2 separate regions of the Homo sapiens genome follow, and region 1 is linked to region 2. Evidence: fine-mapped expression QTL. Tissue or cell type: whole blood. Region 2 holds a variant in brackets; the other region holds the start of a gene. All regions are shown on one strand. Distances are between the middles of the regions.

Region 1 (4,246 bases), 45 kb after region 2:
CCTGCTGTCTCCCTCCAGGTAAAGCAGAATGGGAGACCCCACTGTGTTTTATTGATTATCAGGCCACTGTAAGAGCAACTTAAAAGATACGAAATCATGAAGTGGTTTGCTTTTAAACACTTATTATGGAGTATCTTTTACACAGAACTAGGACTTCCAGGTTAAACACCTATACAAGCTAAGTAACACCATTAATATTCCTGAATCACCCTCAAATAAGTCACTTTTATATTTTGTTCCAAAAAGAACTTGAAGTGGGAATGACATAAGTAAAATTATAGGTTTTTCAAGAACCAGAAAAAAAATTAAATATTACAAAAACTCAAATTCAGCAGCATCTAGGATTTGTTGTAACTCATTTTTCTTTCAATCTTAGAAATTTCTATGTTGAGCTCTCTAAAGAGAGGGGCAGAACAAAATGTTTAAAGCACACATTTTTAACAGAATTTGTAACAATTTCATTTAATGTTATAAAATTGCAGAAGTGACATGTGCAGTGTTTTGTAAATTATCAAAGAGAATATAATCATGTCCCTCTGCGGTTCACTGTGTTTTGGGGTAAAATATCTTTAACCTTTCTTAAAATACGGTGCACATTTAGAGTTTTTCAGGTGTTCCAAAAAAAATACAACTAACGATTCTTTTTGACATTAAGCACGGAAATCGAAATTAACCTTTTTACTTTTATCATTTATGTATTTTGAAAATATCTAAGTGTTACTCATATGCATTCTACAAATTTTTAACTACCCAGGATGTCGAGTTTCTATCTCCTTCCACAGCTGCAACGCTTTTATTTCTTGAGGCACAGAAATGGTCTCTGAACGAACTCCTGTTATTTCAGCACTTTTTGCAAAATACAATACTTCAACCTGAAAGTAAAGAAAATGCTTTTAATAACAACTCATACTCGTTTTCTGACTGTCAATGTTGAGCAGTTTTCTCATTTTCCAAATGTATTGCTTTAATCAAAGACAAATTTTATAAAGAAAATTAAATAACCCGTAAAAAATTTCAGTATACCTACAAGTTCAAATTCTGAAAACTTGTTGTTTTAAATACAATTCAGACTAATTTCTGGATGCCTTTTAGTTTTACAAACTTAAGTGTGCCATCATTAAAATCCTAAGTATTTATCTTCTAGGAAAACATGTTAAGCCTGCCTTAATTGACATAAAAGTATAGCACCTTTTATAAATATGTAAGCAAAGAACAAATGTTTGAGTCAAGAGATGAGTTACACAAATAAAATAAATGAATAAATAAGCGAAAAACCTGTTTCTCACGGTTGTCAAATGACCTTAGATTCCGGTCTGTATAACATCGTCCCCAGACGCTAAGGATTAAGTTATGCAACATAGTAAATCTGACATTTACAGAAGCAAGTAGGTTTGAAACACACGACAGACTGGAATTTGCTAGAACAAACTTGTGCCAGCAGCCTGGTATGTAAGGGATCCGACGAAGTAAAATAGGCACCTGTCACTCCGTGCAAACAACTCTTTACGAAATAATTACAGGTTTGCAAATGATCAAGGGTGTAGAAATCCACAGATGAAGCACAGTTCTTCACAAGAATTCTCCATGAGGTGCATTTCTTTTTAGATTAAAATTTTAGCTTCATCAAAACGAATAATCTGGGAAAGAGGTGGTCATAAAAGGTGGAGGCGCCTTCAGAACGAGTCCGTCCTTGCTGCCGTGAGCTGACAAGAGTTCTCGGAGAGGACCCGACTTCTGCTGGGGCAGTCGCAGTAAAGCCCGGAGACAGGAAGGGCCCGGGGGCGGGGGCGGGGGCGCCCCCGAACCCAAGACGCCGGCCAGGTTGGGGGCTAGTGGGGAGGTCCGACTGACCAAGGCTGGGTATGTGGAGGGAAAGGGCGGGAGAGACACGTCGAGGAGGGCTCCGCACCCAGGCCCGCACGCACACCCGCCACCCTTACCTGGCACAGCGGCACCATCCCGCCTAGGACAGCGGGACCGAATCACGGCCGCAAAGGCGCAGGCGCGGGCTCACCCGGAGCGCAGGCGTAACCCGACGGCGCTCAGCCCCCGCCTGCGCCTGCACGGAGCATGCGCACAACCAGCTCCGCCCCGCGCCGGGCTCTAGCTGTTTCCCTCAGGCGGCCTGTTCCACGCCAGGATTAGTTTTGCTTCGCAGATGGGCCGTGGTGGTGAGAGGAAGCAATCAGTATGGAAATGGAGAAATGGCTTACCATGCATGTCCTTCTCCCCAGGAGGGAGGTCGTGGTGCAGGCGAGCAGACGCCAGACTCCTGGACACTTGCCGCCTGCGTTATGGAGGCTTAGCTAATAACCTTGCAGGGGTCTTCAGGCTTTTCCACTGGCTCACCTTTAGGCTTCTGACACTTTTACCTACGGTATGTGAACCTCGAAAATTTGAGACAGGTCTCAGTTAACTTAGAAAGTTTATTTTGCCAACGTTGAGGACATGCCCGTGACACAGCCTCAGGAAGTCCTGAGGACATGTGCCCAAGGTGGTCAGGGCACAGCTTGGTTTTATACATTTTGGGGAGACAGGAGACATCAATCAATATGTAAAAAGTACATTAGTTCCTTCCAGAAAGGCGGAGACCGTTAAAAGCAAGCCCCGCCCCCCCCAACTGGGGGCTTCCAGGTAGGTAATAGACAGTAGCATTCTTTTGAGTTTCTGATAAGTCTTTCTAAAGGAGGCAATCAGAATATGCATCTATTCTTTGTCAGCAAAAGAGGTGACTTGGATAGAATAGGAGGCAGATTTGCCCTGAGTAATTCCCAGTTTGAAGGGGCCCAAGATTTTTTTCTTTCCCAGGTATATGATTAGTGTTTCTTAAAGACAGAATATCCGCCTGGTCAGAACATTCGAACTGTATGACTTTTCCTGTTTATTGGCTGCTCGGTAATTGTATACTGTCCGTCCAACTTTCCCAATTCTTGCCAACAAGAACTCTTGGCTTTAAATTGCTTGCGTCGTTAAGTGGATGTAAGTTACACGTCCCTTTCCTTGGAGCTCACAGTCCTGGGTAGGAGAGTTTTAAATATGAATGATAATTCCCTGTAATACTAAGGATCTGTGTTACATTTCAAGGGTGGAAGGGGAAAGTGGTTGTGTCACCTGGGGAGTGAGAAGATGCTGAGAAGGTAAATCTGCTAGAATGGTGGCAGTAAATGACAAGAGTGGGAGTAGAGCACGAAGAAATTTCACTTGCCTCTGACAAGCCACAGGGATATGAAGAAGCATAATAAGTTCACAGAAGGGCAAGTAGTTGGCAAGGCAGGTGTGCCTCCAGCAAAGGAGGTGATGAGAAGTGAGGCTGGAGAGTCCTTGGTAGGAAAAATTGACAAGGAGCAATGAATACCAATGTGTATCCTGGTAAAGTTGCTAAACATAAAGGATAAAGACTATATTCACACCCAGGCATAAAAACAAGGGAATGACAATAGTGGCCTTAGACTCCTCAGTGGCATCTGATGGCAATGTGCAGTGTGTAAAAAAGGCTGAGAACAAAAGCATGATCCCATAATATTACAGCCAAACTGGTGGGGCAGGATTCTCCTAAATCAGCAAAAACTCAAAAAACACAATACCCAAGAACCCTTCTTAAAAATCTTTCTTGGGCAAAAAGTCCACTCAATCAAGAGTAATCAAAGTAAATAACTCAGCAATAAAGGTATTAATATGGGAAAAATGAAAAACTAAAAAAACTGGCATTGAGATTTTAACCCATTCAAACGTAAAACTAAGATATCAATTATGGGATATGATTATAAAATAAAATGTAAATGACATCAGAATATTAAAAAAAAATGGAAACTGTCCAAAGTGGGAACATATAGTTACAAAATATCAATTCAGGTTTCTTAATATTTTTCATAATCTTCTTTATTTTAGAAAATATTTTAGGAGCAACTATCTTTTACAAATAAACAATAATCTGATGATTTATAATCCTATCAGTTTCACCAGTTATTTTGTTGATAAATTCAAGTAAATATAGGTCAATAATATTGCCTTGCTTTCATTTTTTTATTTTCTAATTCCTAATGAGGTGAATCTTTTCATATTTTCATTGAGCACTTATACTTCTCTGTGAAGTTTCTGTTCACATCGTTTATTCATTATGCTGTAGATATGACACAGTTCTTTTTTTTTTTACAAAATACAGCCCCATCTATAATTTGTGGATATGCAAGCAAAACTGATACCAAAATATTCCAGGCTTATTCCATAGGCTTTGATTTTACTTTTC
Region 2 (4,246 bases):
TCCATGAGAGGTCTTTGAATATATAGTCTCTTATGCAAATAAAGCCATTATAAGTGCACATCGTTTATTGAAATATGCACACACACAAACATTTGTGTATTTCTCTAGTATCACATGTAATTTTTTGCGATAAAGACAACAATAACAGGGCAATGCTTTCTTGTTATCAGTTGACAGTGAAAAACAGAAGTTTTACCAAGCACTTTGTAAATTCCTTGTGATCTCAGATGCTTCCTACATTAGTTTGTCAGGAAGTGTCATTGCTTAGTGTAACATTTAGGCATGTATCCAACTCTTGAAGTTTCAAGTCCTTCCACAAAAAAACACCATACATTAACATGGCAAAGCATAATTTTTCCAATTTGTGGACTGAACTCTCTAAATCCATGTATATAAGTGTAGTGAACTCCATGAAATAAAAAAAGAAAACCAAATTAAAGGCACAGATTGACATAGAAAATTATATGCTCCTTAGTATATAAGAAAAGGAGAAGCTGATGTTAAAATAGTAAATACTATGTTTAAGTATTGTGATATTTTGTACCACCTGATTTATTGATATTTATGTAAAAATTAATCTTTTAACAGAAGTAATTAATTAAAACAATTCTAAAGCAATTATACATATAAAGAATGTGTAATTGAGTATCAACAAAGGCTGGACCTAGTTACTTGTTGAAAAACTGACAAATCCCCCCTTCTTTAAATATTTCTTACTTGTGAGATATACTGAATTATCATTAATTGTTGAAAATGAACAGATCTTTTAATACCGTGTCAAACGCAGTAAAAATTTGTATAAGATTATATTAGAGGAGAAAGAACACTGACCCAGTTTCATGGTTGAGAAACATTGCTTTCTTGTGAAGTCATGAAATATTTCCATACTTGATCATAAAATTGAAGAAAAAAACTGTGTTTTACAAGGAAACGTCTTTTCCTTTGCACAGAATTATTTAATGTTTTTAATAATGGAGATATTAACAATCTCATTTTCTACTTCCTGTACCACTATAATTATGTCACTATTTGGTAATTTTTACAGAAAGCCTAAATTAAGATATTGTGTTTTATTTTGTTCTGTGTCTGCTTTAATTTCATTCAAGATATTAGTAATTTTCACCAGAAAAATTTTAAATCAAAAGGTTGGAAATAGATGAAGATCGTATTATTGAGAGGAAAATGAGACCAAGAAATGGATGCTGTTCAGCTACAGTAAAGAGAATTATCTCCTTTGACCTTGGTTTATGAGCAGATATTTATGACCTTACTGAAATTCTTATTTATAATTCTGATCATAAATAGTTCAGGTTTAAAATTCTATCCATTTTTAATATTAAAAAATTAGTTTGGTCATCGATTGCTCTGAATTTTATTTTCTTTTTTATTTTATCATATTTCTTTCACTTTTTTAAATAGATGGGGACTTGCTCTGTCACCCAGGCTGTAGTGCACTGGTGTGATCATAGCTCACTGCAGCCTCTAATTCCTAGGCTCAAGCAATCCTCCCACTTCAGCCTCCTGAGAGCTAGGACTACAGCTGTGTGCCACCACTCCTGGCTAACTTTTTACAAAAATGTTTTATAGAGACAAGGTCTCACTATTGCTCAAGCAGGTCTCAAATACCTGGCTTCAAGTAGTCCTTCTGCCTCAGCCTCTGGAGTCTTTGGGATTACAGGCATGAGCCACCACACCCAGCTGCTCTGAATTTTAATTATACAAGTTGTAAGGTTTGCTTTAATCATCCTTTTGTTTCCCCTTTGCAAGGGCATTTTGGGTCAGCACCAATTTCTTGAAGGCCCCGAGGGCATTGAAAACACTCGATTTGGTTCAGCAATTGCAGCTCTTTCAGACATCAACATGGATGGCTTTAATGATGTGATTGTTGGTTCACCACTAGAAAATCAGAATTCTGGAGCTGTATACATTTACAATGGTCATCAGGGCACTATCCGCACAAAGTATTCCCAGGTAATCCATGAGCTGTTATGGTGATGTATGTATTTGTGGGTCTTATCATATTAGACATAGAAAGCGTCATGTAAACCATGCAATCCGTCCGCCTTATTTTGTAACTTCATTCTTTCACTCAGCAAATATAAAGT[G/T]AGCCTCTACTGTGTGCCCAAGCACTGTTCTAGAGTCTGGGGATGCTATAAGAACAGGACAGACACAATTCTGATCTTTGTGTGCCTTATATTATATTGGAGGAGACAAATAAAAAGAAAGAAGTAGATAAGATAAAGTATTCCAGATAGTAATAAAGGAATTTTTAAAAAAGCAAATGAAACTAAAATAGGAAATAAAATTTCAGCAATAGGAGTATCAGGTGGTTGAAGGGGTGACTAATGAGGCCTCACTGAGCAGCCAATTTTGGAGTAAGACTGGAAGGAAAAGAACTAGGAAATTAACCCTGTACCTGAACTTGCATCAATTTGCTCCAAGTCCACTGATCTTTTCACTGGTTTATGATTTTTTATTAAAGATTTATGCTGTCCCTTCGATGAAAATGTGGCTGTAAGAGTGATGCAGAGATCAGATAATAAGATGTGATTAAAAAATGAATCTTTAGAATTTGTAGAGAATAAACACAATCTGGGACATTACTATATAGAAAATATAATAATGAAATTCAGAGGCTGCCATTTTCTGGTTCAGCTGTTGTGTACTATAATTTCGTGTCAAACCTGCTCTTTTAGAAAATCTTGGGATCCGATGGAGCCTTTAGGAGCCATCTCCAGTACTTTGGGAGGTCCTTGGATGGCTATGGAGATTTAAATGGGGATTCCATCACCGATGTGTCTATTGGTGCCTTTGGACAAGTGGTTCAACTCTGGTGAGTCAGGAAGAGCCAGACACAAACTAACTAAAAATTACCTGCTAAGAAAGCAGAACAGATGTCTGTACTGGTATTATAGAAATGCCACATGCATTCTATAAGACTATAGGGAATCGATGTATCATAGTTTGCACAAAGGAATAAATGTGTTTTTCCAAGTAGGAAAAATAGATATATTTGCTTACCATTAGAAATATAGTTCTCTCCTCATATGGTGAGTAAAACAGTACATAGAAAACATAAAGTTCTGGAAATGGTATCCAGGCTATTTCTGAATGTTATCTTCCTATAAATAGCCTTATCTCAGCATACAGAAGGGAAACCTCATGAGAGTGCATTCAAAAATACTGAAAATTCAGACCACACAAGTAAAGTGTAACTTCTATGTGACTGAATGGTATATTTTAAAATTATTAGTCATAAACAATAAGCCATTATTTAGGTTTAGCTGACCTCTCATTGACCTCCACAGGAGTTGAAGATTCAGAGAGAACAGTGTGAAGGTCATGTGATTCAAGGTCAAAAATAAGTATATTGGGCCGGCAAGGGAATAGAATCAGAAAGAAGTTGTTTATTCAATCAAGAATCTCCATTCATTTGTCTCTGTCAAAAAATGTGCTTTAAATGTACAAATATTTGAAGAACAGAAAAATAATATTCATTGATTATTTTTTATTTCTGAGTTTAATGATACTATTTACAAATCTCACTTGTGCTTTTAAAGAATGAAGTACATTATTTTTATTGCAGAATGAAACTTTTATGTGGAAAAAATAAAACTCAAGAATAATACTTAAGACTTTAAAAAAACAAGAAAATATATTTACTGAATAAATCAGTTAAAATCATTTCAGAGTAGCATATCAAGAGTAAATACACATATCCCAGAACCTAAAGTATAATAAATAACTAATATGTTAAACATGTATTGTGTTAGTGATGCAGTCACAAATTAAAAAAAAAATTATCTCTGTCTGCCATCTTAGAGCTTTCAAATATATACTACTGCTAAAGTGCTTTGATAGAGAGTAGAGAGAAAAATTCAGTAATGCTGGTACTGGGTCCTCTATGATAAAGGATATAATACGTGTGCTCAGTAATAACATCCATCCATCTGTTACTCTTTATGTCTTTTAGGTCACAAAGTATTGCTGATGTAGCTATAGAAGCTTCATTCACACCAGAAAAAATCACTTTGGTCAACAAGAATGCTCAGATAATTCTCAAACTCTGCTTCAGTGCAAAGTTCAGACCTACTAAGCAAAACAATCAAGTGGGTGCGTAGATCTGAAATAATCTGTATAGAAATTGGTTGGCTTACAGAGTTTTAGTCCTGAATATAACATATTTTGGTTTGTAGGCCAAGAGAAATAAGGGTTTTAGTTATAGACACTTAAGTTTCCTTACACT

What was found. PIP is the estimated chance that this variant, and not a neighbour inherited with it, causes the effect.
Region 1: it holds the start of MOCS2, and the variant in region 2 is fine-mapped to the expression of MOCS2 in whole blood (TOPMed, PIP above 0.99). The same link has a PIP of 0.9 or more in blood mononuclear cells and monocytes.

What each region holds. Positions count from the first base shown.
Region 1 is chr5:53,107,772-53,112,017 of GRCh38, forward strand. MOCS2 (molybdenum cofactor synthesis 2) reads right to left here and starts at 1,986. Exons shown (of 7, transcript NM_004531.5): 1 at 1,480-1,986; 2 at 751-872. MOCS2-DT (MOCS2 divergent transcript) reads left to right here and starts at 2,071. Exons shown (of 2, transcript NR_104654.1): 1 at 2,071-2,377. RefSeq lists a silencer at 1,725-2,014.
Region 2 is chr5:53,063,145-53,067,390 of GRCh38, forward strand. It overlaps ITGA2 (integrin subunit alpha 2), which reads left to right. Exons shown (of 30, transcript NM_002203.4): 14 at 1,768-1,971; 15 at 2,697-2,833; 16 at 3,974-4,113. Among named protein-coding and RNA genes, the nearest start is that of MOCS2, 44 kb to the right of the region's middle. The variant G/T (reference allele first, on the strand shown) is at 2,106.